2 separate regions of the Homo sapiens genome follow, and region 1 is linked to region 2. Evidence: fine-mapped expression QTL. A gene starts in region 2. The other region holds a variant in brackets. All regions are shown on one strand. Distances are from middle to middle. Region 1 overlaps CA6 (carbonic anhydrase 6). Region 2 holds the start of CA6 (carbonic anhydrase 6).

Evidence for each region. PIP is the estimated chance that this variant, and not a neighbour inherited with it, causes the effect.
Region 1: its variant is fine-mapped to the expression of CA6 in whole blood (TOPMed, PIP above 0.99). The same link has a PIP of 0.9 or more in blood mononuclear cells.

What each region holds. Positions count from the first base shown.
Region 1 is chr1:8,963,747-8,980,169 of GRCh38, reverse strand. CA6 (carbonic anhydrase 6) reads right to left here. Exons shown (of 8, transcript NM_001215.4): 6 at 12,354-12,511; 7 at 9,189-9,303; 8 at 5,078-5,548. The coding sequence ends at 5,466. It also overlaps the pseudogene RN7SL451P. Among named protein-coding and RNA genes, the nearest start is that of CA6, 26 kb to the right of the region's middle. The variant G/A (reference allele first, on the strand shown) is at 9,857.
Region 2 is chr1:8,938,879-8,955,301 of GRCh38, reverse strand. CA6 (carbonic anhydrase 6) reads right to left here and starts at 9,434. Exons shown (of 8, transcript NM_001215.4): 1 at 9,337-9,434; 2 at 5,860-6,039. The coding sequence starts at 9,415.

The DNA of each region.
Region 1 (16,423 bases), 25 kb before region 2:
CTAAAAATACAAAAATTAGCCGGGTGTGGTGGCGCGCGCCTGTGACCCCAGCTACTTGGAAGGGTGAGGCAGGAGAAATCACTTGAACCCAAGAGGTGGAGATTGCAGTGAGCTGAGATCGTGCCACTGCACTCCAGCCTGGGCAACAGAGCAAAAGTCCATCTCAAAAAAAAAAAAGGGGAGCCATTATCTGGTTATAAGGTGTTAATTGCTTGTAGGTTGTTTTTGTTGGTAAGACGTTTCAGTGAACAGACCTAGGAAATACATGTTTTTAGAAAGAGAAAAAGAATTTATTGCCAAGTGCAGTGGTGCGTGCCTGTAGTCCCAGGTAGCTGGAAGGCTGAGGCAGGAGGATAGCTTAAGCCTAGGAGTTCTGGGCTGCAGTGCACTGTGCCAATCAGGTGTCCACACTAAGTCTGACATCAGTATGGTGACCTCCCTGGAGCAGGGGACAACCAGGTTGCCTAAGGAGGGGTGAATCAGCCCAGGTCAGAAATGGATCAGGTCAAAACTCCTGTGCTGATCGGTAATGGGATCATGCCTGTGAATAGCCACTGCACTCCAGCCTGGGCAACATAACAAGATCCTGTCCCTAAAAAAAAAAAAAAAAGAATTTATAAATTTATATTGATATTTCTAAATTTATGATTACAGAGTTTTTATCTAGCTTTGTTAATTTTTTTTTTTTTTTTTGAGACAGGGTCTTGCTTTGTCACCCAGGCTAGAGTGCAGTGATACAACCACGGCTCACGGCAGCCTTCACCTCCCTGGCTCAAGCAATCCTCCCACCTCAGCCTCCTGAGTAGCTGGGACCACAGGCATGGACCACCATGCCTGGCTAAATTTTATTTTTTGTAGAGATGAGGTCTTGCGGTGTTACCTAGGCTGGTCTTGAACTCCTGGGCTCCAGTGATCCTCCCACCTCAGCCTCCCAAAGTGCTGTGATTAAAGGTGTCAGCCATGAAGCCCAGCCTAATTTTTCAATTTGGATCTCTGTTTTTTATGCTGAAAATCTTGTTAGTGAGGACATTAACATAATTATTTGTGCACATATAGTAGTAGAGGATAGTAATTGCACACACACACAATTTCAAAATAACAATACCAATATAATTTTTAAGAGGATTCCTAAGTACTGTTTAAGATTCCTTGGTACTTCTTCTTGTCCTTAGGATATACTGCAGCAGGTATGTAGATGAAAAATACCGTGTCTAAAATAACATGAAAAAATCCTTCAGTGTTCATGCCACCGGCCCTATGTATAATTGTTCAATTGTTCTGCTATATTTTTATGTTGAAACGTAACTCGCGTTTTATGTTTCAGGAATGCTTTTTTCCTTACTTACTTAATTTTACTTTGCAATTACATAAAGCCTGATGTTCCAAAGTCAAAACTACCAAACAGGGCACATCCAGAAAACTCCACCTTCCCACGCCACCCTCAGCACCCTTCCCCTGCCTTCTCTTTTTAGGAAACCTTTTTTTGTTGTTGTTGTTTTTTTTTTTTTTTTTTTTTTTTTTTTTTTTTTTTTTGAGACAGAGACTTGCTCTTTCGCCCAGGCTGGAGTGCAGTGGCGCGATCTCGGCTCACTGCAAGCTCCGCCTCCCGGGTTCATGCCATTCTCCTGCCTCAGCCTCCCTAGTAGCTGGGACTACAGATGCCCGCCACTACGCCCGCCTAATTTTTTGTATTTTTAGTAGAGACGGGGTTTCACTGTGTTAGCCAGGATGGTCTTGATCTCCTGACCTCGTGATCCGCCCCCCTCGGCCTCCCAAAGTGCTGGGATTACAGGCGTGAGCCACCGCGCCTAGCCTAGGAAACCATTTTAATTTATTTTTGGTTTCTTTTTCCCTGTTTGTGCTTCAAAACATAAACAAATACTTAACTATATTCATATTTCTAATTCTTCTTGTGCCATCTGTAAAATTGCTTTTTTCAGGCTTAAAAACATAGCCTACAGGCCAAGCGCAGTGGCTCATGCCTGTAATCCCAGCACTTTGGGAGGCCAAAGCGGGCAGATGATCTGAGGTCAGGAGTTCGAGATCAGCCTGGCCGACATGGCAAAACCCATCTCTACTAAAATTACAAAAATTAGCCAGGGCGTTAGTGGCATGCACCTGTAATCCCAGCTACTCAGGAGGCTGAGACAGAAGAATCACTCGAGCCTGGGAGGCAGAGGTTGCAGTGAGCTGAGATCGTACCACTGCACTCCAGCCTGGGTGACAGAGACTCCATCTCAAAAAAAAGAAACAAATGTAGCCTAGAGATTATTCCCTATGCAGTTCTCTGTTGTGTGAATAGCCCTGGTTTAGTCAACCAATCCCCAACTGATGGACGTTTGTGTTTTTTCCTGTATTTTGCTGTTAAAAAGGTCAGCATGAATGGCTTTTTTGCAAGTTTCTTTCTTTCTTTCTTTCTTTCTTTCTTTCTTTCTTTCTTTCTTTCTTTCTTTCTTTCTTTCTTTCTTTTTTGAGATGGAGTCTTGCTCTGTCGCCAGGCTGGAGTGCAGTGGCACGATCTCAGCTCACTGCAACCTCCGCCTCCTGGGTTCAAGCGATTCTCCTGCCTCAGTCTCCCGAGTAGCTGGGATTACAGATGCACGCCACACCCAGCTAATTTTTTTGTATTTTTAGTAGAGATGGGGTTTCACCATGTTGGCCAGGATGGCCTCGATCTTCTGACCTGATGATCCACCCACCTCGGCCTCCCAAAGTGCTGGGATTACAGGCGTGAGCCACCGCGCCCGGCCACAAGCCTCTCTTAAGGATAGACTTTCAGGGGTGGGAGGGCTGGATCCCTGAGGACAGGCAAGTGTAATCCCATCTCCATCTTCATTTCCTTGTCTGCCTTCCCACAGGAATGTAAGTAAGCTCTTTGGCCGTACCGCCCACTGTTGCGTCTCTCATTCATTATAGACACACATATCTGGTGGAAAGAATGAATCGCACCGTGTCGTTCCCCTGTGGAAACCCTGCAGTCGCTGCCGTCACCTACAGGGTAAAATCCGAAACCCTTTAGTGGCACAGAAGATACCAGTGACGGCCTGACCTGCCCTGGCCACACCCCCGCTTTCCGTGCCAGCATCCTTGAACTTGGTCCTCTGACCACGCCAAATTGCTTCCACTTCCCCAGGTGTCTTCCCATCAGCACATGCCACACTCTCGGGTTACAATACCCCCGCCCCTCTCTGACTTGGTTTCCCAGGTGAACTCTTTCTCAGCCTTCAAAACCCAGGCCAAGCACTTGGATTTTAAACACAGGCGCTCCCTCCACCATGGGGCGATATGGCGATTACTTATTTTAGTGTCCACTCTGCTCACCAGACCCGAGCTGTAGGAGTGTGGGAGCTGTTCTCACCCATCCCTGAACCCCCAGCACCTAGTGTTATGTCAGGCTCAGAGCAAGTGCATAAGAAAGCTTGTTGAGAAAATGAAAGGGAGGCTTCCTATGGTTAAAAGAATGTGGATACAAAAGACTTGGGTTCAAATCCTGGCTTTTCATCTGCCACCTAGGAGATCTTGGGCAAGTCGACGTCTTGGTTTGCTTTCTGTAAACTGGGGATAATGCAAGTTCACTGAAGGTGGCCTTCGGGGCTGAGGGCAGTCACGTGTGGTGGAAGTGCTTAGGATATGACAAATAATGACATGGAAAAACAACAGAGGTAACAAGAGCAGAAGGAATTCAGAAGAGCCAGGGTGAGCTCAATCAGAAGTGAGGAGGAAGCTAAGGCATGGGAAGGAAGGGGCATCGATGAAGGGAATGCATAAGTGACCAAGAAAATTGGTAGCAGCCAGGTGTGGTGGCTCATGCCTATAATTCCAGCACCTTGGGAGACCAAAGGTAGGAAGATCACTTGAGCCCAGGAGGTTGAGGCTGCCATGAAGCTAGGATCACCACTGCACTCCAGCCTAGGCCACAGAGCAAGATCCTGTCTCAAAAAACATAAAAATAAAAATAAAAAATATGGGTCACTCTTCTGGGTACTTCTCAGTGTTATTTAATGATAAAAAAAATATGGGTCACTCTTCTGGGTACTTCTCAGTGTTATTTAATGAAGCCACAGCCCTATGAGCCCTGTGAGGTCATGTTATCATCCCACATAACTAATGGGATGCCTGAATCTGGGTCTGGTAACAAGGACCAGGCACCATTTGACCAACAAGGGGGTTTGCAGTGAGGTCCCCTCTCTTCTTTCCTTCTGTCCTGGGAGCCCTTCTTCTTTCTCGTCTCCTGTTTTTTCTTTGACTCACAGCCACTGCTCCAAACTTCCCCACTGACAAATTCTCAGTGTAAGAATCTCTTCCTAGGCCAGGGGTGGTGGCTCACGCCCGTAATCCCAACACTTTGGGAGGCCGAGGCAGGAGGATCACCTGAGATCAGGAGTTTGAGACCAGCCTGGCCAACATGGCAAAACCCCATCTCTACTAAAAATACAAAAATTAGCTGGGCGTGGTGGTGCACACCTGTAATCCCAACTACTTGGGAGGCTGAGGCAGAATAATTGCTTGAACCCAGAAGGCAGAGGTTGCAGTAAAATTATACCACTGGATTCCAGCCTGAGCAACAAAGCGAGGCTCTGTCTCAAAGGAAAAGAAAAGGCCAGGCGCGGTGGCTCACGCCTGTAATCCCAGCACTTTGGGAGGCCGAGGCGGGCGGATCATAAGGTCAAGAGATCGAGACCATCCTGAGCAACATGGTGAAACCCCGTCTCTACTAAAAATACAAAAAATTAGCTGGGCATGGTGGTGCGCAACTGTAGTCCCAGCTACTCAGGGAGGCTGAGGCAGGAGAATTGCTTGAACCCAAGAGGTGGAGGTTGCAGTGAGCCAAGATTGTGCCACTGCACTCCAGCCTGGCAACAGAGTGAGACTCCATCTCAAAAAAATAAGCAACAACAACAAAAAACACCTCCTTCCTTTTTATTAATCTTAGTCTTGGAAATCCCTCCCACTTTGATCTCTATCCCTTCACCTATGTGCGGTTGTGGGGGAGTAGGGGGAGGAGTGGGGGGAGGAGTCGGGGGCGGGCAGAACAAAGAAGGGATATTTGAAGTAATACAAAGGAATAGGAAAGAAATTTTTAAATGACAAATTTCCAAAGTTATTTTATTACATCTAATGCTAAAGGAAAGGTCAGGCTGGTTTATAATTCAGACAGGTCAACATATATGATTTGATGGGAGAATAGTTAGGGTTCCATTTCCTTTAAGTTTCTATTCCAATCAATTTCCACTGGTGATGTCTAACTCAGATCCCGTCTCATGAACTGAAGCCATCTCACTTCCTGTCCAGGATGATCGTTTCCCCTCTTTTAATCAGAATCCCAACAGCTGCCCCAGGGGGAGCAGCGTGTTCCAGACACACATGGTTTCTTAGACAAGGTAGGGTGCGGCTGCAGCGGACAGGCACTTCTGGCTAGGTCAGGCTTCAAGCTAGTTAATATTGAATCTTCCTCTTAGCTTTCCTCAGTTCAATGCTCTTCTTAAGTAGTCAAGAATTTCCTCAATCTTATGTAGGTAAAACTGGAATTCAGAGCCTAGAGTGTATTCTGTAAAAAGAAGAGTTAGTCGGAAATGGTTAAACCTTGTACAGTCCTCACAAAAACAGAGAAGGGGGACGGCCAGACACCATACCCGCATCGTATTTTTGGGAAGTCTTTTGATTCCTTAGAATGCTCTCCACGTGCCCGGTGCATTGCCTTTAGTCATCTTCACTGTGTTTGAACTCAGGCTTCTAAGCTGCCCAGAGCCAAGGGGTGGCGTGTTGAGGTGGGCTGTACTCTTGGATTTTGGCTTCTCCCACGATGCCCCCCGTGGCCCTTGCCTGAGGGGATATAGGCGTTTTCTAGTAAATAAATCGCAAGAGGTCCGTATTTGGCCATCGTCTTGTTTTTGTAACTGACCTTGGTTTCTCAATTCACTCCTTGCAGGTGGGTTAATCATATCAACCCCGCTGGGATACAGTTCTCTACAGAACAGTGAAATACCATGAGTCACGCAGCTGGGTTGACCACAGCCAATCACTGCTACATAGAAATCTGGGCCTGGCCAGGCGCGATGGCTCATGCCTGTAATCCCAGCACTTTGGGAGGCTGAAGTGGGTGGATTGCTTGAGCTCAGGAGTTCGAGACCAGCCTGGGCCACATGGCCAAAGCCCGTCTCTACAAAAAAATACAAAAATTAGCTGGGTGTGGTGGTACATGCTACTCCCAGCTACTTGGGAGGTCGAGGTAGGAGGACTGCTTGAGCCCTGGAGGTCATGGCTGCAGTGAGCCAAGATTGCGCCATTGCACTCCAGTCTGGGCAACAGAGCAAGACTCTGTCAAAAAAAGAAAGAAAGAGAGGAAGAAAGAGAGAGAGAGAGAGAGAGAGGGAGGGAGGGAAAAGAAAGAAAGAAAGAAAGAAAGAAAGAAAGAAAGAAAGAAAGAAAGAAAGAAAGAAAGAAAGAAAGAAAGAAAGAGAGAGAAAGAAAAATCCAGGCCTGAGGGAAGGTGGGCCAAGATGATGCCCAGTTGTCTGTTCTATAATCAGCAAAGGGAGGCCACAATTCGGGTTCCCTGGGGGTAAGGAAGCCCTCTGATGCTGAACTGGGAGTTGAAGTAATCGATCCTAAACAGCGATTCTTAGTGGACCTACAGACAAATCACAGCATGGAATACCTCAGTCTGGGGCCGGTACCTAGAACATCTGACCCCCTCGTGAGGAGATGCTAGAGTGACGCTGTAGTGGAAAAAGCATTTCAGATGTGGCAAATAGAACGATACGCAGTCTGTTAGTGACTATTGCAAGAATAGCGTAAAATTGTTTTAGGGAAAGCAGGGGAAATATGGCAACATTTAGACCTAGGAGACAGGCCGGGCACAGTGACTCACACCTGTAATCCCAGCAATTTGGGAGGCCGGGCAGGCGGATCACCTGAGGTCAGGAGTTCAAGACCAGCCTAACCAACATGGTGAAATCCCATCTCTACTAAAAATACAAAAATTAGCCTGGCGTGGGGGCGCGTGCCTGTAATCCCAGCTACTTGGGAGGCTGAGGCAGGAGAATTGCTTGAATCTGGGAGGCGGAGGTTGCAGTGAGCCCATGAGATTGCACCACTGCACTCCAGCCTGGGCGACAGAGTGAGAGACTCCAAAAGAATTAGGAGACAGACCCATGAGTCTAAGCTCCCTTTGGTCAGCCTGCTTGCAATTGGACCTGTTAAAGACGACATCACTTTCGGACAAAGGGATTCTTGCTGTTAATGTTGTATATGGTATAATATGGGGAAATGATTACTGTAACTGATGTCAGTTTTTTTCTTCTGTTAGTATTGTATTGGAGGAGTGAATTGTATTTCAGGAAACAATATAGAAAACACCTATATCCTCTGTTAATTCAGTAAGTGAACCAGGAAGGAAAGGTGGGGAGAAAATCACAAATAGGCCTTATTCGGGTTGGGGAGGTGGAAATTTAATTTTTTTGTTTGTTTGTTTGTTTTGGTTTTTTGAAACAGAGTCTCTCTCTGTCGCCCAGGCTGGAGTGCAGTGGCGCAATCTCGGCTCACTGCAAGCTCCGCCTCCCGGGTTCATGCCCAGCTACTCAGCCTCCCCAGTCTCAGCCTCCCCAGTAGCTGGGACTACAGGCGCCCGCCACCTCGCCTGGCTAATTTTTTGTATATTTAGTAGAGGCGGGGTTTCACCATGTTAGCCAAGATGGTCTCGATCTCCTGACATCGTGATCTGCCCGCCTCAGCCTCCCAAAGTGCTGGGATTACAGGCGTGAGCCGCCACACCCGGAGGAAATTTAAGTTTTAAAAGGTACATATAAAGATGGGATAAGGCCGAACGAGGTGGCTCGTGCTTATAATCCCAGCACTTTGGGAGGCTGAGGGGGGAGGATTGCTTGTGGCCAGGAGTTTGAGACCAGTCTGAGCAACATAGTAAGAGTCCATCTCTACAAAAACTACAAAAAAAATTAGCTGGGTGTGGTGGTGTGTGCCTGCAGTCTCCGCTACTGGGGAGGCTGAGGTGGGAGGATCACTTGAGCCTGGATGTTTGAGGCTGCAGTGAGCCGTGATTGTGCCACTGAGCTCCAGCCTGGGCAACAGACTGAGACCTTGTCTCAAAAAAGAAAAAAAAAGTGGGATAATATTGAGTACACAATATTGATAGGATACTGATTCTACTGTATTGGAAAATATAAAGGTATCAGGAATGGTTAACAGAATGGGCTGTAAAGACAATGGATTCACCACAACTTTACAGAAAGCAGACAAAATAAAGATGAGGAGGCTGTGAAATATTTACACTCTTGCCAACACAGAAACGAGGTGAGCCAAGGACACGGTTGGAGCCTGATCCAAGGAACTGGAGGATGCAGCGGAGGCTGGCCTGCCCGCACCTGCTTCCAGCACGCTGGGGTCTGGGGCCTGCGCCCCAGGCAGATGCAGGGAACAATATGTGGTCTAGTTAACTCCACTTTGAGAGAATGTATAGGAGGCGTTGGGGGTGGGTTCATAACACAGACTATGATCAAGATGCGCAGGAAATAATCTGGGTGGGGTTAATAAGGTTAACTTGGCCAGGCACGGTGGCTCCCGCCTGTAATCCCAGCACTTTGGGAGGCCGAGGTGGGCAGATCACCTGAGGTCAGGAGTTTGGGACCAGCCTGGCCAATATGGCAAAGCCCCATTTCAGTTAAAAAAAAAAAATTAGCCGGGCGTGGTGGTAGGTGCCTGTAGTCCCAGCTACTGGGGAGGTTGAGGCAGGAGAATTGCTTGAACCCGGGAAGCAGAGGTTGTAGTGAGACGAGATTGCACCACTGCACTCCAGCCTGGGTGACAGAGTGAGACTCTGTCTCAAAAAAAAAAAAAAAAAAGGTTAACTTGAACCTACACTCTTGTGAGAGCTTCCGGATGTTGTGGTCTTCTTGCTTCTCCTGCTCTCTCTAGCCAAGACTAGGTAGGTAATAAATCACGTAGCTGTCGCTTCTGATTGTCTCGTGTGTTCTACTCACTGGCATCCCTGCCTGGACTGGGAAAAAGTCATCACCCTCTGCCCAAGCCCTGTGCAGCTTGGCCCACCTGAGCCTCTTGCTACTGAAATGACTCTCCTTCCCTTATATCACCAGAAGAGATGGGTCCACCTAGAGGAAGGAGCAAAACAGGAGTTAAACTGCAGAGCATGATCAAGAGTCGGTCTCACTCACCCTGATTCGGGAAGTTGGATTCCACCACTCTGTGGTTCAGGGGCTGGGTCCTGCGGTAATCGTTGTGGATGGTCTTGTTGCGGTGATCCAGTAAGGAATTCTCCAGCTTCCAAACCTGGGGGCAACGTGAGTGCATTATGGAGGGGAAGAGTCACTGGGTAATTTAAAAGAAATAACAGTTGGCCCGGCGCAGTGGCTCACGCCTGTAATCCCAGCATTTTGGGAGGCTGGGGCGGGCAGATCACTTGAGCTCAGGAGTTGGAGACCAGCCTGGCCAACATGGTGAAACCTCTTCTCTACTAAAAATTAGCTGATCATGGTTGTGTGCACCTGTAATCCCAGCTACTCAGGAGGCTGAGGCAGGAGAATCGCTTGAACCTGGGAGGCAGAGGCTGCAGTAAGCCAGTATCACGCAACCGCACTCCAGCCTGGGAGACAGAGAGAAACTCTGTCTCAAAAAAAATAAAAAATAAAAAAGAATTAACAACTGGGCTAGAGTTTGGATTTATATAACCCTGATGAAGTGACTGTAAGAAGATCTCAAGTCCAGGGGAGGTTCTGGGTGCTGTGTCTCAGGCATTATTCCAGAACTAATCTATCCGTGCATTCTTCCAACAGGTATCTGCACACAAGCTCTCTTTTCAGCTTTTTATATGAGTATTTGTCCA[G/A]TAGTAGAAAGGAGAGAAAGAAGAAGCAGAAATATATCAAGTGGCAAACTCAATTTTTGTTTTTCTGAAAATGTCAGGTTTTTCTCTTTTTTTTTTTTTTTTTTTTTTGAGACCAGAGTCTCGCTCTGTCGCCAGGCTGGAGTGCAGTGACGCGATTGCGGCTCACTGCAACCTCCACCTCCCGGGTTCAAGTTATTCTCTCCTGCCTCAGCCTCCTGACTAGCTGGGACTACAGGCACCCACCCACACACCCAGATAATTTTTATATTTTTAGTAGAGATGGGGTTTCACCATGTGGGCCAGGCTGGTCTCAAACTCCTCAGGCCATTCGCCCACTCAGCCTCCCATAGTGCTGGAATTACAGGTATGAACCACCTCACCTGACCTGAAAATGTCTGTATTTTGTCTATATCCTTGAAAGGCATCTTTGCTGCACATACAATTCTATATTGGCTATTTTTTTTCCCTCGGCACTTTGAAATTATGTTTCCACTCCCTTCTGACTTTCACTGTGGCTGTTAAATCAACTCTCTGTCTAATAATACTCTTTTCATGATAATCTGTCTTTTCTTTCTGGCTAATTTTTAAATAGTTTCTTTGTCTTTGATGATTTCAATGTGATGCGTTTACTGCAGGATGTTGTGTATACACACACACACATATCTACACACCCAGAGAGAGAGAGAGACAGAGAGAGAAACTAATTGGCATTCTTGAATATATGACTTGGTATCTCTTCCTGAAAATTGTCAGCCAATATTTTGTCAAATCATGCCTCTTCCCTACTCTGCCTCTCTTCTCCTTCTAGGATTTTGATTAGACATTTACTAGACCTTTCCAGTACACAATGTCTCTTCACTTCTTTTCATAGTTCCATCTCCTTTTCTCTGTGCTGCATTCTAGATAATGTTATTGGCTGTCTCCAATTTACTAATTCTCTCTCAAACTGTATCTAACATGCGTTAAACCCATTCATTGGGTTTTTGTTTTTGTTTTTTTGAGATGGAGTCTTGCCCTGTTGCCCAGGCTGGAGTGCAATGGCATGATCTCAGCTCACTGCAACATCCGCCTCCTGGGTTCAAGCGATTCTCCTGCCTCAGCCTCCTGAGTGGCTGGGATTATAGGTTCACACCACTATGCCCGGCTAATTTTTTGTATCTTTAGTAGAGACAGGGTTTCACCATGTTGGCCAGGCTGGTCTCGAACCCCTGACCTCGTGATCCACCCGCTTTGGCGTCCCAAAGTGCTGGGATTACAGGCTTGAGCCACCGTGCCCAGCAAACTTTTTTTTTTTTTGAGACAGGGTTTTGCTCTGTTGCCCAGGCTGGAGTGCAGTAGTGCAATCTTGGCTCACTGCAACCTCCACGTCCCAGGTTCAAGTGATTCTTCCACCTCAGCCTCTGGGGTAGCTGGGATTACAAGCGCCCCACCACCACGACTGGCTAATTTTTTGTACTTTTAGTAGAGACGGGGTTCCACCATGTTGGCCAGGCTGATCTCAAACTCCTGACCTCAGGTGATCCACCCACTTTGGCCTCCCAAAGTGCTGGGATTACAGGCATGAGACACCACAACTGGCCTGGATTATTAATTTTTGATACTATTTTTCCATTTCTAGAAATTCTATTTGAGTTTTTGTCCCAAGTCTGGATGTCCATTTTTATACTTTTTTGCTCTTTTCTCATATTTAAACCTTTTATTTCTTTATACATGTTAAACATTCTTATGTCATATTAATTGTCTGATAATTCCACTAACTGAAGTCTTTGTAGGTCTGATTCTGCTGGTTCTCATCTATAATGTCTTTTTTTCTCATATGTTTTGTATTTTTTTTTCTTAATTGAGCTAATTTCAAGTAACTTTATTTGTGAAAATTCTTCTAGGTCTGGATTTAAGGTCATTTTCCCAGAGATAATTTACCATTTGCTTTTGTCAGGTGTCTGGGGGCACTTCTAGCCTGACTGGCAACATTTTGGAGTGTGAGTGTCCTTGAGCAGGGGTCTTTTCCACCTTTTTCTAAGGAAATGAAAAGTTTAAGAAAAGGAGATGGCCGGGTGCAGTGGCTCACACCTGTAATCCCAGCACTTTGGGAGGCTGAGACAGGCAGACTGCTTGAACCTGGGAGTTTGAGACCTGCCTGGGCAACATAATAAAACCCTGTCCCTACTAAAAATAAAAACTAGCCGGGCGTGGTGGCACACTCCTGGAGTCCCAGCTACTCGGGAGGCTGAGGCAGGAGAATTGCTTGAACCTGGGAGGCGGAGGTTGCAGTGAGCTGAGATCGTGCCACTGCACTCCAGCCCAGGTGACAGAGCGAGACTCTGTCTCACAAAAAAAAAAAAAAAAAAAAGGTTGGCTAGACGAGGCACAGTAGCCCTGCACACAGAAAATACTGTAGGACCCCTTAGTTGTTGACGTTCGTTGAGATGCTGGGGAGAACCCTTGTTAACCAGGCAATCGAATGGGAAGACTTCGGCAAAGTGATACCATACATTACCTGTGTCCTGGAGAGCTTGACAAAATCTGCCAGCACAAACCAGTGGACGTTCTCAGTGCAGGGAGGCGTGGTGAGTGAGCCATGGTAGGTGTAGTAGTGCTGGAGGTTCCTGGGCAGCATGTCCTGAACGTCAAGGCCAGTCAGGGTTGTTCTTTGTCCTGACCAAGAAGACAGAAGGTAACAGAATGTCAGGGACCAGCGCTGCCCCTCGGGAGGACAGCTCAGGCCCAGGCCTCGCCAGGTTCCAATCTCTTGAGTTCAGCAGAACATAGAAGCTGATGATTAAGAAACAATTTCCCAGTTTACTTCTTCCTGGAAGGGATTGAGAGGAGAGACTTTGGGGATAGACGCACTCAGACACCTGCTCCTGGCTGAGTGCTCTTGGCCGGGTGCTCACCCTGCGGCCATTTTCTCATCTGTAGAAAGGGAATAATCAGCAGGATTGTTGTGAGGGTAAGAAGGAATAACGTCTGGAAAGCAGCTGGCATTGAACCACTACATAGGGAAGTACTCCTAAGTGTAACTGCTGCGGTCACCATTATCATGGCTAGGCAGAGGACACATTTTATGATCAATGAAAGAAATAAATATGGCCCCTGGAGACTTCTGGGTAAGTGCCCTTGAAGAAAGACCAAAATGCCTTGGTTTGGGCTCATTGAGAAGTGGGTAGACAACAGTTGTAAATGCAGAATCAGGCCAGGCGCAGTGGCTCACGCTTGTAATCTCAACACTCTGGGAGGCCAAGGCGGGAGGATTGCTTGGGGCCAAGAGTTCAAGACCAGCCTGGGCAACACAGGGAGGCCCCGTCTCTACAATAAGTTGTTTTTTTTATTATTTTTTTAAATAATAAATGCAGAATCAGAACCAAGCCAGGGTCCAGGTACAGGCATTTGGTCCTGAGCTCTTCCTGCCACAACCGCTGGAAACCAAGCCCAGCCACAGGTGGGGCGTAGGGTGGGGCCACTTCCACCAGGCCTGCAAAACTCCTGCAGCAGCCACACCTGCTCCTGCTCTAGAGAGGTCCTTGTTTCATTCATGTCAACAACACTGAGCCCCTGAGCTCAGCACAAGACTCTCAAGGCAACACAGGATTGAGTTGGATTTTGCTTCACTTTCCCTGAGCACTTCTGCGCTTCTTAAAGGCAGAGAACATAGTTTTGATACATACGTAGATAGGCCTGTTCAACCAAGGCCACAATGTCTCAGAGTGCATAAGCCCATGAGTAGGCAAAAGAGTTCTAAGTTTGATTATTATTGGAAGATTTCAAGATATAACCTCCAAAAGGGCTCTGTGGTAGAGATTTATTTTTGTAACTCTAATATATTTAAGTGAAAGTCAAGAATTCCAGAATCATGATGCAGCCACCACGGAAAATGGTATAATAGTTCCTCAAAAAATAAACATACGGCCAGGTATGGTGGCTCACACCTGTAATCCCAGCACTTTGGGAGGCCGAGGCGGGTGGATCACCTGAGGTCAGGAGTTTGAGACCAGCCTGGCCAACATGATGAAACCCCGTCTCTACTAAAAATACAAAAATTAGCTGGGCATGGTGGCACGTGCCTGTAATCCCAGCTACTCGGGAGGCTGAGGCAGGAGAAGCGCTTGAACTTGGGAGGCGGAGGTTGCAGTGAGCCGAGATCAAGGCACTGCACTCCCGCCCCAGCGAGACTCTGTCTCAAAAAACAAAAAAAAATTAAAATTAAAAAAACATAGATTACTATGTGACCCAGCAATTCTACTCCTATCTACCCAAAAGAAATGAAAGCAGGGACTCAAAGAGATACTTGTACACCTATATTCATAGCAGCGTTACCTCACAATAGCCAAAAGGTAGAAGCCACCAAAATGTTCACCAGTAGATAAATGGATACACAAAATATCATATATCCACACAATGGAATATACTTCAGCCTTTTTTTTTTTTTTGAAGCAGAGTCTCACTCTGTCACCCAGACTGGAGTGCAGTGGCACAATCTCAGCTCACTGCAACCTCTGCCTCCCGGGTTCAAGCGATTCTCCCGCCTCAGCCTCCTGAGTAGCTGGGAATACAGGCACCCTCCATAACACCTGGCTAATTTTGTATTTTTAGTAGGGACGGGGTTTCACCATGTTGGCCAGGCTGATCTCAAACTCCTGACCTCAAGTGCTCTGCCAGCCTTGGCCTCCCAAAGTACTGGAATTACAGGCGTGAGTCACCTCGCCCAGCCACTTCAGCCTTTAAAAGGAATGAAATTCTGATAACATGCTACAATGTGGGCAAACCTAAAAGACATTATGCTAAGTGAAATAATCCAGACCAAAAAAAAAGACAAATACTGTTTGATTCTACTTATATGAGGTACCTAGAATAGTCAAATTCTTAGAGACAGAAACTGTGGTTACCAGAAGCTGGAAGGGGAGATGGGGAGTAACTGTTGAATGGGTACAGAGTTTCAGTTTAGGAAGACGAAAAAAAGTTCCGGCAATGGAGCGGGGTGATGGTTGCATCATACTGTGAATGTTCTTAATGCTACTGAACTGTACATTTAAAATGGTTTAAGGGGTAAGTTTGTTGTTGTTGTCGTTGTTTGAGATGTTGTTGCGCTCTGTCGTCCAGGCTGGAGTGCAGCGACACAATCTCAGCTCACTACAACCTCCACCTCCCGGGTTTAAGCGATTCTCCTGCCTCAGCCTTCCGAGTAACTGGGATTACAGGCGTGCACCACCATGCCTGGCTAATTTTTGTATTTTTAGTAGAGACGGGGTTCAACCATGTTGGCCACACTGGTCTCAAACTCCTGACCTCAGGTGATCAGCCCGCCTCCGCCTCCCAAAGTGAGGGGATTACAGGTGTGAGCCACCGCACCCAGCCTTAAGTGGTAAGTTTTAATTCAGGCTGTGGGACTGCGTGGAGTCACTGAGATGAGACAGAGCCTGACTCCACCCAACATTTAGGGCAGGAGCCAGAAAGAGAGTGAGAGGGCAGAGCTGGGGCGCGCCAGACCACCCTTTGAAGGTAAACTAAGACGAGAAGAAGAGTGGCCCATAGATCTGACCGTCACTCCGGCTCCGTGGAGCATTGGGGCCAGCTCAGGGTGGGGTGGGTGAGAATGGAGAACAGGACTATTCTATGACCTTTTCAAGGGGAGCCAGAGAACTGGGGGAAGCTGGGGAATGGTAAGGTCAGGAGATAACGTTTGTTTGCTTGTGTTTGGAGGTGGGAGGAATTAGGGCAGATGTGTGTGCTGAGCAGGAGGCTTTAATAAAGAGTAAGACATCAACGATGCAGACCGGGCACGGTGGCTCATGCGTGTAATCCCAGCACTTTGGGAGGCCGAGGCGGGTAGATCACAAGGTCAGGAGATCGAGACCATCCTGGCCAACATGGTGAAACCCTGTCTCTACTAAAATACAAAAAATTGGCCAGGCATGGTGGTGTGTGCCTGTAATTCCAACTACTCAGGGGGCTGAGGCAGGGGAATCACTTCAACCCGGGAGGCGGAGGTTGTAGTGAGCTGAGATCATGCCACTGCACTCCAGCCTGGTGACAGAGCAAGACTCCATCTCCAAAAAGAAAAAAGAGAGAGAGAGAGAGAAATCAACGATGCAGAAGACCAGGGAGAGAATAGCAGGAAAGGAGGCCCTGAGCATGGGAGAGGAGTGGGGTTGGGCCCCACGTGGGAGGGGTGGTGTTGACAAGAGCAGGGATTTGTCATCCGTTGCAGCTGAAGAGGGGATGTGGAATTTGGTCCAGATGCACGTGGGTTAAGGAGCGGAGTGTTTCTGGCCTGTGGCTTCTGTCTTCTCAATGGAGTGGGAGTGGGAGCGTCAGCTCCAGGGGAATTGCTGGAGCCCAGGCACAGGGGCTTCAGGAGAGAGGAGAAAGCATGTGACAGGAATTTGGGAGGTCAGAAAGAAAATGCCCAGCGTGATACTTTAGGATTTCTGGGCACTGTTCATATTTGTAGCTATGAATAAAAAATAATACCAGTTGGCCAGGTGTGGTGGCTCATGCCTATAATCCCAAAATTTTGGGAAGTTGAGGCAGGCAGATCACTTGAGCCCAGGAGTTCAAGACCAGCCTGAG
Region 2 (16,423 bases):
CAGGCTCAAACAATCCTCCTGCCTCAGCCCCTCAAGTAGCAGGGACTACAGGCACACACCACCATGTCCAGCTAATTTTTAAGTTTATTTGTAGAGACAGAATTTCACCATGTTGCCCAGGCTGGTCTGAAACTCCTGGGCTCAAGCAATCCACCTGCCTTGGCCTCTCAAAGTGCTGGGATTATAGGTGAGCCACGGCACCTGGGCAATATATATTAATGGATCAGTGCCGGCACCTGGGCAATATATATTAATGGATCAGTGCCGGCCCACCAACTGTTACTAGTCTGCACCAAAACAGAGAAATTGGGAGTTCATTTTAGAAATTTTGTAGCAACTTGTCTTTGTTTCAACAGCCTGTGTTTCAATTTGAATTTCTCTTTATTGAAATGTTGAATCTAATTTAAATTTAATTTTAAAATGAGGAGGCCAGGCCCGGCAGCTCACACCTGTAATCCTAGCAATTTAGGAGGCCAAGGCAGGCAGATCACCTGAGGTCAGGGGTTCAAGACCAACCTAGCCAACATGGCGAAACCTCGTCTCTACTAAAAATACAAAAATAACCCAAAAATATGGACAAAATCTATATAAGGAAAATCACAAAACTAATGAAATAAATCAGGAAGAACTAAATAAGTGGAGAAATATTCCATGTTCACAGATAGGAAGACTTAATACTATCTCAATGTCAATTATTTCCAACTTGGTCTATATGTTACCAAAAACCGGTCCCAATCCAGACCCCAAGAGAGGGTTCTTGGATCTCACACAAGAAAGAATTTGGGGTGAGTCCACAGAATAAAGTGAAAGCAAGTTTATTAAGAAAATAAAGGAATAGGCCAGGCGCAGTGCCTCACACCTGTAATCCCAGCACTTTGGGAGGCCGAAGCAGGCAGATCACTTGAGGTCAGGAGTTCAAGACCAGCCTGGCCGACATGGCGAAACCCCGTCTTTACTAAAATTATAAAACTTAATGGAGCATGGTGGTGCATGCCTGTAAACCCAGCTACTTGGGAGGCTGAGGCACGAGAATCACTTGAACCAGGAGGCAGAGGTTGCAGGGAGCCAAGGTAGCACCACTGCACTCCAGCCTCAGAGCAAGATTCTGTCTCCAAAAAAAAAAAAAAACGGAAGTAGTGGAATAAAGAATGGCTGCTCCACAGGCAGAGCAGCCCCAAGGGCAGCTGGTTGCCCGTTTTTATGGTTATGTCTTAATTATATGCTAAACAAGGGGTGTATTATTCATGCCTCCCCTTTTTAGACCACATAGGGTAACTTCCTGACGTTGCCATGTCATATGTAAACTGTCATAGCACTAGTGGGACTGTAGCAGTGAGGACAACTGGAGGTCACTCTCGTGGCCATCTTGATTTTGGTAGGATTTGTCAGGCTTCTTTACTGCAACCTGTTTTATCAGCAAGCTTTATGACCTGTATCTTGTGCCAACCTCCTATCTCATCCTGTGACTGAGAATGCCTTAACCTCCTGGGAGTGCAGTCCAGTAGGTCTCAACCTTATCTTACCCACCCCCTATTCAAGATGGGGTCACTCTGGTTCAAACGCCTCTGACATTACTATACGATCAAGCAAGCTCTTGGTAATTACCCACATGGACTGAAAACACACAAACCTACACATGGAATTGATTGATTGATTGATTGACTGATTGATTGATTGATTGAGAGAAGGTCTTGCTCTGTCACCCAGGCTGGAGTGCAGTGGTGCAATCATAGCTCACTGCAGCCTTGACCTCCCAAGCTGCTCAAGTGAGCCTCGCACCTCAACCTCCTATGTAGCCAGGACTGTATGTTTGAGCCACCATGCCAGGCTAATTTTTTTATTACTTTCGTAGGTCTCACTACATTGCCCAGGCTGGTCTCAAATTCCTGGGTTCAAGTGATCCTCCCACCTTGGCCTCCCAAAGTGCTGGGGTTACAGGCATGAGCCACCATGCCTGGCCTGCATATGGGTTTTATAACAGCTTTATTCATAACTGCCAAAACTGAGAAGCAGCCCGGATGTCTTTGGATAGGTGAATGGATAAACTGGTTCATCCAGGCAATAGAATATTCAGCACTGAAAAGAAATGAGCTATCAAGCCATGAAAAGACATGGAGGAAACTTAAATGCATATTGCTAAGTGAAAGAAGCCAATGTGAAAAGGCTACATGCTGTGTGATTCCAACCATATGACATTTTGGAAGAGGAAAAACTATAGGTCAAATAAAAAGATCAGTGATTGCCAGGGTTTAGGAAGGAAGGGAAAGATGAACAGGTGGAACACAGGATTTTCATGACACTGAAATGATTGCTCGATACATGTGATTAGAAACCTTTCAAAACCTGACTGGGCATGGTGGCTCATGCCTGTAATCCCAGCACTTTGGGAGGCCGAAGTGGGCGGATGACTTGAGGTCAGGAGTTTGAGACCAGCCTGGCCAACATGGTGACACCCTGTCTGTACTAGAAATACAAAAATTAGCCAGGCGTGGTGGCACATGCCTGTAATCCCAGCTACTGAGGAGGCTGAGGCAGGAGAATTGATTGAACCCGGGAGGCGGAGGTTGCAGTGAGCCGAGATCGCGCCACCGCACTCCAGCCTGGGCTACAGGGCACGACTTCGTCTCAAATAAAAGAACCTTGCAAAACCAAAAATTAACAAATCTTTAATACGTCATGTCAACTTTACTGTTAAGCTTAGTGTTCATCAAAATCTCATTAGATTCAAAGTTTGTAGATTAGCTTTTTTTCCCCCTTCAGTAGAATTCCTGAATGTGCTTGGAGCTTGCTGAAAAGTAGCCAATGGCAATAGCCAAATAACTTCAAAAGCTAAATTATAAAAATCTTTCAAAATACTTTATATCAGGCTGGGCACGGTGGCTTATGCATATAATCTCAACACTTTGGGAGGCCAAGGTGGGCGGATCACTTGAGGTCAGGAGTTCGAGACCAGCCAGGCCAACATGCTGAAACCCCATCTCTACAAAAAATACAAAAATTAGCTGGGGGTGGTGGTGTGCGCCTGTAGTCCCATCTACTCAGGAGGCTGAGGCATGAGAATTGCTTGACCCTAGGAGGCAGAGGTTGCAGTGAGCCAAGATCATGCCACTGCATTCCAGCCTGGGTGACAGAGTGAGACTCCATCTCAGAAAAAAACCCTTTACATCGAAAAATGGAATTATGGCCAGCCTTGGTGGCTCGTGCCTGTAATCCTAGCACTTTGGGAGGCCAAGGTGGGCAGAGCACTTGAGGCAAGGAGTTCGAGACCAGACTGGCCAGTATGACAAAACCGCATCTCTACTAAAAATACAAAAATTAGCTGGGCGTGGTGGCACATGCCTGTAGTCCCAGGTACCAGGGAAGCTGAGGCAGGAGAATTGCTTGAATCTGGGAAGTGGAGGTTTCAGTGAGCCAAGATTGCACCACTGCACTCCAGCCGGGGTGACAGAGCAAGACTCCATCTCAAAAAAAAAAATTGTTTTTAATATATATATAATTAATGTGAACTTTGGGTCCACTCTAATGTCCGACATGCTGTCGTGTGAGGTGAGAACCCCAAAGGAACAGGCTTCCGGACCACAGAAATTTGAGCAGAGCCCTAAAGGAAGAAGGTACAGGGTCCTCTGGAAATTGGGAGGCGGGAGCCGCTGCAAGCCCCTTGGGAAGCTGGGCTCTTCTCTTCCATATGCCTTCCCTCTTCTGGGCCCTCAGCACGAAGCCCGCACTCAGCAAGCGTTGCCCATAGAGATCCTCCATCAATGATTGCTTCCCACCAGCTGTCCAGGGAGGGTGAACAAAGCCACTGCCTTTGGCCTTTGTGCTTCGCCCCTTCTCCACAAGGAGAGGACAAGGAGGGGAGGAAGAGTTCCGCCTGCCAATCTGGAAGCATCAGAGAGTAACTTTGGAAACAAGAGCTCGACATTATGATGAAAATGAGGCTTTTGTTCATTCTTTGTGTATTTCAGGGCTCCTGGCCACATAAACCTGAGTCCTTTTACAGACAGAGCTTCATTCTCCAATTTGCTACTTTCACCAACCCTATAAAGGACAATTGGTTTTCTTTCTTTCTTTTTTTTTTTTTCTTTGAGATGGAGTTTTGCTCTTGTTGCCCAGGCTGGGGTGCAATGGCACGATCTTGGCTCACTGCAACCTCTGCCTCCTGAGTTCAAGTGATTCTCCTGCCTCAGCCTCCCGAGTAGCTGGGATTACAGGCATGCGCCACCACGCCCAACCAATTTTTGTGTTTTTAGTAGAGACAAGGTTTCACCATGTTGGCCAGGCTAGTCTCGAACTCCTGACCTCAGGTGATCTGCCTGCCTCGGGCTCCCAAAGTGCTGGGATTACAGGCATGAACCACCTCACCAGGCTGGTTTTATTTTCTTGATTGTGCAAGATAAGAACACTAAGTCCTGTGACCCTTTTATTTTTTTATTTTAAAGAAACGGTCTCGCTCTGTTGCCCAGGGTGGAGTACAGTGGTAATCTCGGCTCACCACAACCTTGACCTCCCAGGCTCAAGTGATCCTCCCACCTCAGCCTCCCGAGTAGCTGGGACTACAGGCACTCACCACCACTCCTGGCTAATGTTTTGATTTTTTGTAGAGATGAAGTCTCACCAAGTTGCCCAGGTTGGTCTCAAACTCTGGCATCAAGTGATCCTCCCACCTCAGCCTCCTAAAGTACTGGGTTTACAGGCATGAGCCACCATGCCTGGCCAAGTCCAGTGACTGTCCTATCGCTGTGTGGCAGGCAGGGATGTATCTCAACCCAAGCAGGAGTGAGAGAGTGCAGAACCTAAGGAGGATGTGGCCAAGAAACCTGACAACTGGGGGTGTGAGCCCATCTTGGCCATTAGACAGTGTGTGGCCTTGGGTGAGTCCCTCGACCTCCTGAGGCCTCAGACTTCCTGCCTAAAAAATGCCCCCTCCTGGGGTGGTCATGAGGCTCAGAGGAGTCGAGCCAACTTGGAAAATCAGGAGGATATTCTGCACAAGTAAAGCACAGATTTCACAGTTTCCAGGCCGGGCATGGTGGCTCGTGCCTGTAATCCCAGCACTTTGGGGAGGCTAAGGTGGGCAGATAACTTGAGGTCAGGAGTTCCAGACCAGCCTGGCCAACATGGTGAAACCTCGTCTCTACTAAAAATACAAAAAAAATTAGCTGGGCATGGTGGTGCATGCCTGTAATCCCAGCTACTCAGGAGGCTGAGGCAGGAGAATCGCTTGAACCCAGGAGGTGGAGGTTGCAGTGAGCTGAGATCCTGCCACTGCACTCCAGCCTGGGCAACAGAGTGAGACTCTGTCTCAAAAAAATAAACAAAATTTACAGTTTCTCATATCGGATTCCTGAAGTGGGGCATCCCCACGGCCCTGCTTTTTCTGTCTGACCTTCACCTTCTTTCTTGTAGGGATCAGAAAGCCAGAGCTTTCTTCTTAAAACTCTGAGAAACCCTGGTCCTACCTGTCAGGTGCTTTGAGCTGAATAGACTCAATATAGGAAATGTGGAAAAGCTGACCCAAGGTGATGGACAGAAAGCCCCCGTGGGAAGGGTGGCTTCAGCAGCACGGCCTGTCCTGCCTGTCACCTGCTGGGTGGGTTGGGTGAGCTCGGGTAAGAGGATAACGCTGCAGGAAGGGACCAGCAGGGAGTTGAGTCGAAAGATGGATGCTGCCCTCTCTGGAAGAGCCACTAGGTTTCGGGGCCAGTCAGCCCTCATGTTCGACCCTCATGTTCGAGGCCTCCAGCTCTGAGGCCGTGCTCTGTGTCTCTGTGCAAGCCATTCCTGGCAGGGACACGTGTAACCTGCCTTCCCCTGCAGGCTGCCCATGGACTGGAGCCCCTCACCACCCCTTCCTCTTACCTGTGTGGCCATTGTTGACCATGGGGAACTCCCCTGCCTGGGTCTCATAGCCTGTCATATTGAGCCCCTTCAAGGAGGGGTTGTACCGCACCTTCGTCCTCTGTAGGTTGATAGGCGACTGTCTCTGGCCCCCACAGGCGGGGTAGTGCTGTGGCCAGTGCGCTTCGTCCAGTGCCCCTTCTAAGACAGGAAAGACACAGTTCAAGGGGCTGCCTGGCTGCGCCCACTCTGGAGGAACCTCACCAGGCCAGAGGCCAGAGGCCAGGGCCTGCTGGGCGGGGACCCACGGAGGCACCTTCCAGAAAGCAGAAGCAGGTCCCCCAGAAGGAGGCCAAAAAGACAACGAGGTCAACTCCAAGGACTCTGGTGTTTGGGGGGCTTTGGTGCTAACCTCTAACTTTCCTGTGGCAACTGCTGGCCCTGGGAGCAAGACAGTGTTTTGAAATCAATGGAAGTCTTTTTTTTTTTTTTTTGAGACAGGGTCTCGCTGTGTCACCCAGGTTGGAGTGCAGTGGTGCAATCTTGGCTCACTGCAACCTCTGCCTCCCAGATTCAAGAGATTATCCGGCATCAGCCTCCGGAGTAGCTGGGATTACAGGCATGCACCACCACGCCTGGCTAATTTTTGTATTTTTAGTAGAGACGGGGTTTCACCATGTTGGCCAGGCTGATCTCTAACTCCTGACCTCAGGTGATCCACCCACCTTGGCCTCCCAAAGTGCTGGGATTACAGGCGTGAGCCACCGTGCCCGGCCTGAGAGTGTTTTATACGTAAATTTTTGCTCTCGTTTGACTTATTTCCAGCTGGTGAATGCATGGAGGGATCCTTGGCTTTGCTCTTCCTGTGCTGCTCCTGGGGCCTCTTCCTCATTTCCTCCCAAGGGCCCAGTTGTCCTTCCATGCCCCCAACAGGAACACAGCCCCCACCTCCCCATGCTGCAGGAACCCCCCACCACTATTTTCTTGCTCCAGCCCCTTTTATGGATTCCCGTATGGTAAAGACCATCTAGGTGTCTACACTTATGGATTCAGGGAAACTAAGGAAGCATCAGGTTCCAGGACAACCTAGAATGAGTACTTTTTTAAAATTCATAAGGAGAAAGTTTATCTTTTCAGAGAGGGTTGATAATCGTAGGGGACAGAGTAACATAGGTGAGTGATTATCATGGTGACTTGGCTCCCATACAGCTGTGGAGCTTGGAGTCAGCCATGTGACATGGAGAATCCCACCTCTGTTCCCTGTTCGGGGGTAGCTGTGTGGTGAGTACACAGCTTGTTTTAAGACAGGTGTTTGTGGCTGGGCACGGTGGCTCATGCCTGTAATCCCAACACTTTGGGAGGCCGAGGCGGGTGGATCACCTAAGGTTGGGAGCTCGAGACCCACCCTGACAAACCTGGAGAAACTCCATCTCTACTAAAAATAAAAAACAATCAGCCGGGCATGGTGGCACATGCCGTTAATCCCAGCTACTTGAGAGGCTAAGGCAGGAGAATCACTTGAACCCAGGAGGCAGAGGTTGCGGTGAGCCGAGATCGCGCCACTGCACTCCAGCCTGGGCAACGAGAGTGAAACTCTCAAAAAAAAAAAAAAAGGTGTCTGTACTAGGGCCCTCACCGCTTTTTGGTTTGTAATCAAGGCAATTGGCCTGGAGCACAACGCCTTCTCAGAGCAAGATGCTTTGGCCCAGGGCACTGTCAATACTGGAACATCTCTCAGGTTTCCCTGGAAGGCATTTACAAAAGCTACTCTCAAGTTCTCCTGGAGCCCCTAGTAGTTTCCCAGGAAGCCCACTGTCTCAGAGGCTGGGCAGAGCCTGGGAAGGACAAGGACTTCATTGTCTGAATTCTCTCTTCCTTCACCTCTGAACCACCTGCCTGCACTGCTTGGCCAAGTGAAGCAGAATGCCCCAGGCTTCCGAGGCACTGCCATGTGTAAGATCACTGTCCTCAGGAACAGAGCGGTTGTTCAGAGCTGGCTGGACTTTCTGAACCTCCCAGGATGTCCCTAATTCCGTTGCCCTTGACTTAACAGATCATCCCGTTCACCCTGAAGGAATGCTTCCGGAGCAGCTGAACTGGGGCAGACTCTGCAGGAAGCAGATGTTTGTCTCACTTCCTGCATCAGCCAGCGGCCACCAGCCTCCTCATGGGCCCCAATCCATGGTCCCGTATGGAAAGAAGGGGGATGCGGGAAGAAGCTCTCCTCACTGCCCCTGGAAAGGGCTGTTTAGTGTCCACAAAGTCCACAGACACGGCCTTCTAGCTTTGGCTCACATGTGGACCAGAACCCATGTTGAATGCCAGGATTTTACATTTCACATTTTAAAAGTCTGGTTTGGGGCCTGGCGCGGTGGCTCACGCCTGTAATCCCAGCACTTTGGGAGGCTAAGGTGGGCGGATCACTTGAGGTCAGAAGTTTGAGAACAGCCTGGCCAACGTGGTAAAACCCCATCTCCACTAAAAATACAAAAGTTAGCCAGGCATGGTGATGAGTGCCTGTAATCCCAGCTACTTGGGAGGCTAAGACATGAGAATCGCTTGAAACCAGGAGGCAGAGGTTGCAGTAAGCCGAGATGGCACCACTGAACTCCAGCCTGGGCAACAGAGCAAGACTCTGTCTCAAAAAAAAAAAAAAAACAAAAAAAAAAACACCTCTCATTTTGGCAGCCCACAGATCAAAGGGAACTGGGTCCTTATGTCAAGATGTTCTGGGTAAACTGCCTACCATGAAATTTCCAAGAAAGAAGGTCTCGCAAACCCCACAGCACCTTCCGTGAGGTTACCGAGAGTCTTTTCTAAGAACTTTGTTTTCCACTTACACGGACCAACAAAGCAAATGGTTTTACAAATAGAAGCAGTGAGTGTGCTTTTGAACCAGCCAACACTGTGGATGGAAAAAAATTTAAAGCAAAAAGCCTGTAAGTAAATCAGGAGTTTGTGAAGGGGAAAGCTATTTCCTTCTTTTCCTTATTTGAAGTTTAAGTTCAGCTTATTCTCCATACCTTCTGAGACACTGAAAAGGTAACATCTGAAGCCACAATGAGCAGACCCCCAACATATGGCAAGTGGGCTGCCTGGCCATCCTGTGAAATGCCCTAAAGGAGGACTCTTGGCCGGGCGCAATGGCTCATGCCTGTAATCCCAGCACTTTGGGAGATGGGCAGATCACCTAAGGTCAGGAGTTCGAGACCAGCCTGGACAACATGGTGAAACCCTGTCTCTACTAAAAATACAAAAATTAGCCAGGCATGGTGGCAGGCACCTGTAATCCCAGGTACTCGGGAGGCTAAGGCAGCAGAATCACTTGAACCCGGGAGGCGGAGGTTGCAGTGAGCCAACATCACACTACTGTACTCAAGCCTGGGCAACAGAGCAAGACTTTGTCTAAAAAAAAAAAAAAGAAGAAGAAGAAGGGCACTTGTCCTGTTGTAAGGGTGTGAGGGTAACTGGGGGAGCATGCAGAAGCTAGGGGCTCACCTGAGTAGGTCCAGTCAGACACATGCTGGGCCTGGCCACCCAGCAGGAACAGGGACAGCAGAAGCACCAGGGCCCTCATGGTGCTGCACATCTGTAATGAAGACTGATTCCGGCGAAGCTCTTCTTTTAAAGGCTCAGAAACTGTAAATAACAATTTACAATTGATCTGCCCAGCTGGCTAAACCACCCTTTGCTGCACCCACTAAAACAATAACACCCTCCCCATAACAGCACTTCTGGCTCCGTGCATTGCGCCAGGCAGCCCCAGCACCTGCCTGATCTCCTCCCACGTCAATTTCATATCCGGTCAGTCCATGGGTTTGGTTGTTCAGTGTCTTAGGAACACCTGAAGAGCCACACAGTGCAGCCATTGTGGACAGGTGACCGCGGAAATGGGAAAAGGCCCAAGGCAGGGAGAAGCAGGATGAAAGACTTTCCTGGACGTCGGACTTCCCATGCTCTTTCTCCTGACATTAGAGATCTGGGGACTGCTGATGGGATCACCACTGCCTGCAAACCCTGCCCATCTCAGTCATGGACACAAGCCACCGCTGCAGACATGTGGCTGCCCTCAGCCAGGCATCCAGGGAGGTGGCCTGGCCTCCATGTTTGGACATTTCACGGTCCTCTCCTTAAACCAGTGGTTGATCCTGGGTCCCAGCTCATGAGCCACATTCCAATGTGTGCCTTTATGCCATTCAAGCTGGTGTGGGCGTCTGCATTTCTACATGGATTTGTTCTGACACCTGCAGGGCTCTTGGGCACACCTAAGCCAATCAGCCAATTGCCCTCGCAGGATCCATGGATTACCTAATCCTGTGTATTCACTTGGCTAGACAGTCCCTGAAATTAGCTGAAGGAGAAACTTTTGAGTTTATGCCTGCTGACAGGCCAGCATTTCCCATGCCCTTCCACAAGGTCAAACACAAAGGGTAGCCGGAGCTCCTGCGGGGGGGCTACCATGCTGCCGGACACAAAGGGCCACCCCTGCCTTGTTATGGGGAGCTGAACCCCCTCCTGGCCTAGCTTAACTCATTGTCCACTTGGTCCTGGAATGGCAAACGTCAGCAGGCCTTCACAACAAGGATGTTAGCGGTGAACGTAGGCCTCCCGAATACTTCTAAGACTCCCCACTGTCATTTAATAGGGAACATCAGCTGCTGCAAAGAACTTGCTGGAAACTTCCATTTCTAAAGCTCAAGAGCTGAAAGAATCTCAGAGAGAGAGCAAAGCATGTTCAAGGACAAGGATTCTGAAACTAGACAGGATCTGTGCCACCTGCTAACTGTGTGACCATGGGCAACTCAGCGCTCTGTGCCTCAGCTTTCCTTCCTTTTCTTTTTTCTCTTTCTTTCTTCCTTTCTCTCTTTCTTTTCTTTCTCTCTTTCTCTCTTTCTTTCTTTTTTGAGACAGGGTCTCTCTCTGTCACCAGGCTGGAGTGCAATGATACGATTTCAGCTCACTTCTCTTGGACTCAAGCAATCCTCCTGCCTCAGCTTCCCAAGTAGCTGGGACCACAGTCGCATGCCACTACGCCCTGCTAATTTTTGTACTTTTTGTAGATACAGGTTTTCACCATGTTGCTTAGGCTGGCCTCAAACTCCTGGACTCAAGCGATTCTCCCGCCTCGTGCTCCCAAAGTGCTGGGATTACAGGCGTGAGCCGCCGCACCTGGCCGCCTCCTTTCTTTAAAAGGAGTTAGTGATAGCACCTCCTTTGTGGGGATTCGGCAATAAATGTGCCTGCAGTAGTTGGAGCAGTGCCTGGTGTGTAGCAAATGGCATTAGCATCTATTCAGACCCCTCATTTTATAGGAAAAGGAAGTGATTTATCATTGCCACCCAGCTGGTTAGTGAGGGAACTGGAGGAAAAATGCTTCAATCTCCAGCTTATGGACCATTTCTTTGCAAAAATGAGAAACCTACTCTTCTGTCCTTGCTAAACCAGTGACGCCCACCTGCTGACTCCCAGCCCTGCGGAAAGGGCCACCTTGTAAATCACAAGGCCCCACCTCTGCTGAGGAGACCAAGACCCTTTACAAGCCCAGGCAGGACCCCTGACATCAAACTGGCAGGAAAACACAAACTCAGTCATCTGAATTTTTTCTTGGGAATCTGAATTGGGAGACCCAGAAAGAATCAGGGAGCTGCAGGCAGGCAGAGACTAAAATGTCAGGCTGTCACGGAAGCCTGGGAGGACTGGATGAGCCCAGGCGAGGGGAACTGGAGCAGGAAGGAGCTCAGAGAAAGCCTGGGCCAAGGGGGAGGGGAAGACTGCCCAAAGAGGGGCCCTGGAGAGTCAGAGAGAGGAGTGCTTGCGGGAGAGCACAGTGAAATGCAGAGGGCCCACCACTCCTGGCAGCTCCCAGCCCCACGGGTCTCACTGCCCTGCGGTGAGCATTTGGGGCTTCCCAGGAGAGCTCTGGGGCGTTCCTTGCCTCACACAGCTCCTTAAAATACAGTGCACATACTGCGTCTGTGAAGCTGTGATGCCAGCAGCCCCTCTGCAGAACTGCTGTGCAGCGTATCCACCCATCACATCTGAAGCTTTGCCCTGGTTTTGCCTTTCGCTCAGGCAAGAGCCTGGACTGGCCAGCAACCTGTTGACCTGGCTGGTGTTGAGAATTGGTGTGAAAGTGAGTAATTAAGGCAATACGGGGGTCAGATCAGATGATGGCCTCTTGGAGAAGCAAGGCCATCTGCCAACGAGGGCATATTTCTAGAGAGAGGGTCCCCTCCCTCCGCTGTACAGCACACTGCCAAGGACATACTGGACCCAGAATCAGGTGTGGTCAGTAGTGTTGCCTATTTTCTGACTCCTTGTCTACTTCAAACCTGAAATTTTCCGTCACCTTTGAACATGAGTCTTCTTCTTGGATTTGGGAGGCACATTGTTTGTTTGGGTTTGCTTTTGTTGGTGGTGGTGGCAGTGGGTTTTTGTTGTTGTTGTTTTTGGTTTTTGGTTTCTTTTTTGAGACAGGGTCTCACTCTGTTGCCCAGGCTGGAGTGCAGTGGTGCAATCATGGCTCACTGCAGCCTCCCAGTGCTCAGGTGATCCTCCCGCCTCAGCACCCCCTTCCGCCTCATCCCCTCCAAGTAGCTGGGACAACAGGTGCGTGCCCTATGTGTGCTCTGTTTTTGTTGCTTTTATTTTTAGTGTGTCTCTCTATGCTATGAGCTTCCTTCTGCCTTCATCCAACCATATCCTTGGCTGATCAAGGTTGTTTTTTTAATTCTAAACTCCTATTTTTCTAGGGTCTATGGTTGGATTGGCTGTCGGAGATGAGTTGACAAGTTTATCATTATTACAACATCAGGTCAAAGGGAGAAAGGAGCCTTTGTTCTTCCTTGCTTCTACCACTGCCCCCCCGACAAGGCCCACTGAGGCAAGGAAAAAGAAGGAGGCAGGGAGGCATGGCCAGCCCAGGTGGGCAAGAAGGCACCATCAGCCCAGGTGAGCAGGGACAGATCATGAACCAAATGACTAGGGAGGCACCGTTAGCCCAGGCTGCACAGGACCAGCATAAAAGAATGAGTCTGGCAGGCCAGGCACGGTGGCTCACACCTGTAATCCCAGCACTTGGGGAGGCCGAGGTGGGTGGATCACCTGATGTCAGGAGTTCAAGACCAGCCTGGGCAACATGGTGAAACCCCGTCTCTACTAAAAATACAAAAATTAGCCAGGCATAGTGGTGCGTGCCTGTAATTCCAGCTACTTGGGAGGCCGAGCCATGAGAATCACTTGAACCCAGGAGGCAGAGGTTGCAGCGAACTGAGATCACGCCACTGCACTCCAGCCTGGGCAACAGAACGAGACTCTGTCTCAAAAACAACAACAAAAACAAACAAAAAACAAACAAAAAAGAAAGAGTCTGCCTACACAAGAATATGCTTATTTGGGTGTAAGTAACACAGAAAGGCTATTGTTCTGTTTCATGCAGGAGTGTGAGCTCATCCTGAAGAATGAGTCACTCTGAACAAGTAAGTTCTAGATGGTTACAGGCTCAATCCTATGTAAGCACCAAGATGTTTAAAACCTCTAAAATGTACGGTACAGTTTTAAAAAGATAAAGCTGAATTTTATTAAACTTTTCTTAATGACTGAGTCCCACTAATATGAACATCAATTATTCTCCTGCATTGTAATATATTGATGTCTGCTGGGCCTATAACATATAACATATATATATAATTCTCCCTGCAAGAAACGACCCCTGGCCAGGCACAGTGGCTCACACCTATAATCCCAGCACTTTGGGAGGCCAAGGGGGATGGATCACCTGAGGTCAGGAGTTCGAGCCCAGCTTGGCCAACATGGTGAAACCCCGTCTCTTCTGAAAATACAAAAGTAGCCAGGCATGGTGGCATGTGCCTGTGATCCCAGCTACTCGGGAGGCTCAAGAGGGAGACTCCATCGTCTCAAAAAAAAAAAGAAAGAAAGGAAAGAAATGACCCCTAACTGTAGTTTTTGGATTTCTTTTACCAGATACTGAGAGAGGAAAGTTAGCTAGCTTAATTGATTACTAAAGCAATGCACGTTTATGCTCAGGGGTATCCATAAGGCTGGGACATAACCAATCAGGACAGAAGCCAGACTTGGTGTGGAGGAAAGTCTGAAAGCTCCCTGCTCTGCCAGGAGTTAACCCTGGATTGGTGGATTGTAGGGAGATTGGGAAGTTCTTGGGAAGGGCTGAGCGGCAGGAGCAGCTGGAGGTACCATTGTGTGTGTATTGATTTTGTTTTTCATTGTTTTTTCATTGTTAGCATTTCTTTCTTTTTTTCTTTTCTTTTTTTTTTTTTTTTTTTTGAGATGAAGCTTCACTCTTGTTGCCCAGGCTGGAGTGCAATGGCGTGATCTCGGCTCACTGCAACCTCCACCACCCGGGTTCAAGTGACTCTCCGGCCTCAGCCTCCCAAGTAGCTGGGATTACAGGCGCCCACCACCATGCCTGGCTAATTTTTGTATTTTTAGTAGAGACGGGGTTTCACCATGTTGGTCAGGCTGGTCTTGAATTCCTGACCTGAGGTGATCCGCCTGCCTTGGCCTCCCAAAGTGCTGAGATTACAGGTGTGAGCCACCGCGCCTGGCCCACTATTAGCATTTCTAACATGGGCTTCCAGCTCTTGCCTCTTAGGGTTGTCTGTCTGTTCTCATCTCCTGGCTTCCTCATCTGTTTGGCAGAAACCAGATGACCACACTTCTTAAAATTACATGTCCAAGAAGAATGGATAGAGCTAAGCCAACAGCCCAGAGACTGTCCTCTACCTAAAATACACACACTCTGAAATGCCTTCGGCATTTTGATGCTAAACTCACAGATTTCTATTTCCTTTCTGACTTTCAGCTATATCCATATAAATGGAGCATTGACAAGTCATTGTGTAAACTAACCCACTCGCAAAATATCCAGCTACAGTCAGGTCCAACTCCACGGGGGGGCCCTTGCTTTCTCTCACTAGCCTCCTGGTGATGAGTTCCCCAGTCTTAGAGAGTATCTCCAGCCTCACACATCCTCCTGGAATTCAGCACCTGTTGGGTAGGGTTGTCTCCCAACAGGCATCTCCTCCTGTGTCTCTATCCTCTTCCCCACTGGGTACCAGTAACCCACATCCAAAAGCAATCAGCCCAAAACCCTAGTGGAAATCCTCTTTTCTATCATTAATTTAGGTATAAGCAAAATAGGAACCAAATACCTAAAAATATTTACAGCTCAGCCTGCCATCATCCTGTGCCCCTTCTCTGTGCAAACTCACCATCCTCCTGCCACGAGAATTGGATGTTCTGTTTGTATCTCTTGCTGGCTCTACCTTCTACTTCTTGTAGAAGTAGAGTTCTGTGTTCTGTGTCTTTTATGTGGCAGAAGCCGGGAAGTCTTCCGTGGGCTTTGCTCAAATGGGAGGGTAAAATTCCCTACTAGGAGTGTTGCATCTGTATATGCCTGGGATTGGCCAGAGTGACTCCATCTTGGTTATTATCCATGAGTCTTGCTTATATCTCTTCAGTGTGCTCCACCCCTAGTAGGCCAGAGTCTTGCTTATATCTCTTCAGTATGCTCCACCCCTAGTTTACATCTGCATGGCAGGTTTGTATGCCTTTCAGCTCCACCCTTCCCTGGTCAATAAGCAGGTCAAATCCACCCTTCCTGATCAAATGCATAATGAGTCGTCACCCTCCCCTCATGCCTAAGGGACCGATTATGCAAGCAGAGGATTGTATTAGTTTCCCACTGCTGTAACAAACTGCCAAAAACTCAGTGCTTAAAACAACACAAGTTCATTATCTTACAGATCTAAAGGTCAGAAATTCAAAACCAGTTTCACTGGGCTAAAGTCAAGGTATGGGCAGGGGTGGCTCCTTCAGAGGCTCTGAGGGGATCATCGGTTCCCTTGCATTTTTCAGCTCCTAGTGGCCACCTGCATTCCTTGGCTCGTGGCTTCTTCCTTGAATCACTCCAATCTCTTGCTTCCTTTGTAGTTTGCTTAGTCCTTAGTGCAGCTAGGTCCGAGTTCTTGCTCTACGACCAAGAAGAATAAGGCACACAGACAGTGGAGAGTGAGTAGAATAGAACAGGATTTATTAAACAAAAGGAAAACTCTCAGCAAAGAGAGGGGTCCTGAAAGCGAGGCAGAAATTTAAAAATAACAATCATAATAATAAGTACTGCACTTATTCACCCCAAGAAAAGTAAAAGCTAAGGCCCAGAATGTGGCAAGGCAAGGTTTCAAAAGAAAAAGAAAAGGACAAGTTTTCCTCTGCTTAGCAAGCTCATTTCAAGGACTGTTAACAACGCTGTCGGAATAGCCAAGGCCAAAGGAATGGGCTCCAGACACTCCCCTGCTTCCAGAGCAAGGTTGAGGGGGAAAAAAGAGAGAAAGACAGATTATTTTACTGTTACTCTTTTCTCAGTCTTCTTAAGCATTATTATGTTTTACAAATGTCTGTATTTAGCCAGCTCTTGTTTTTCTTTCGATGCAGCTGCAAGGCCACCAGCTATGTAAGGTCACAAATTATGTTATGCTATAGATTACGTGACCTGTCACTGTATGATTAACTGCTTTTGTTTTGCTTCTGTAAGGCCACTTATAAA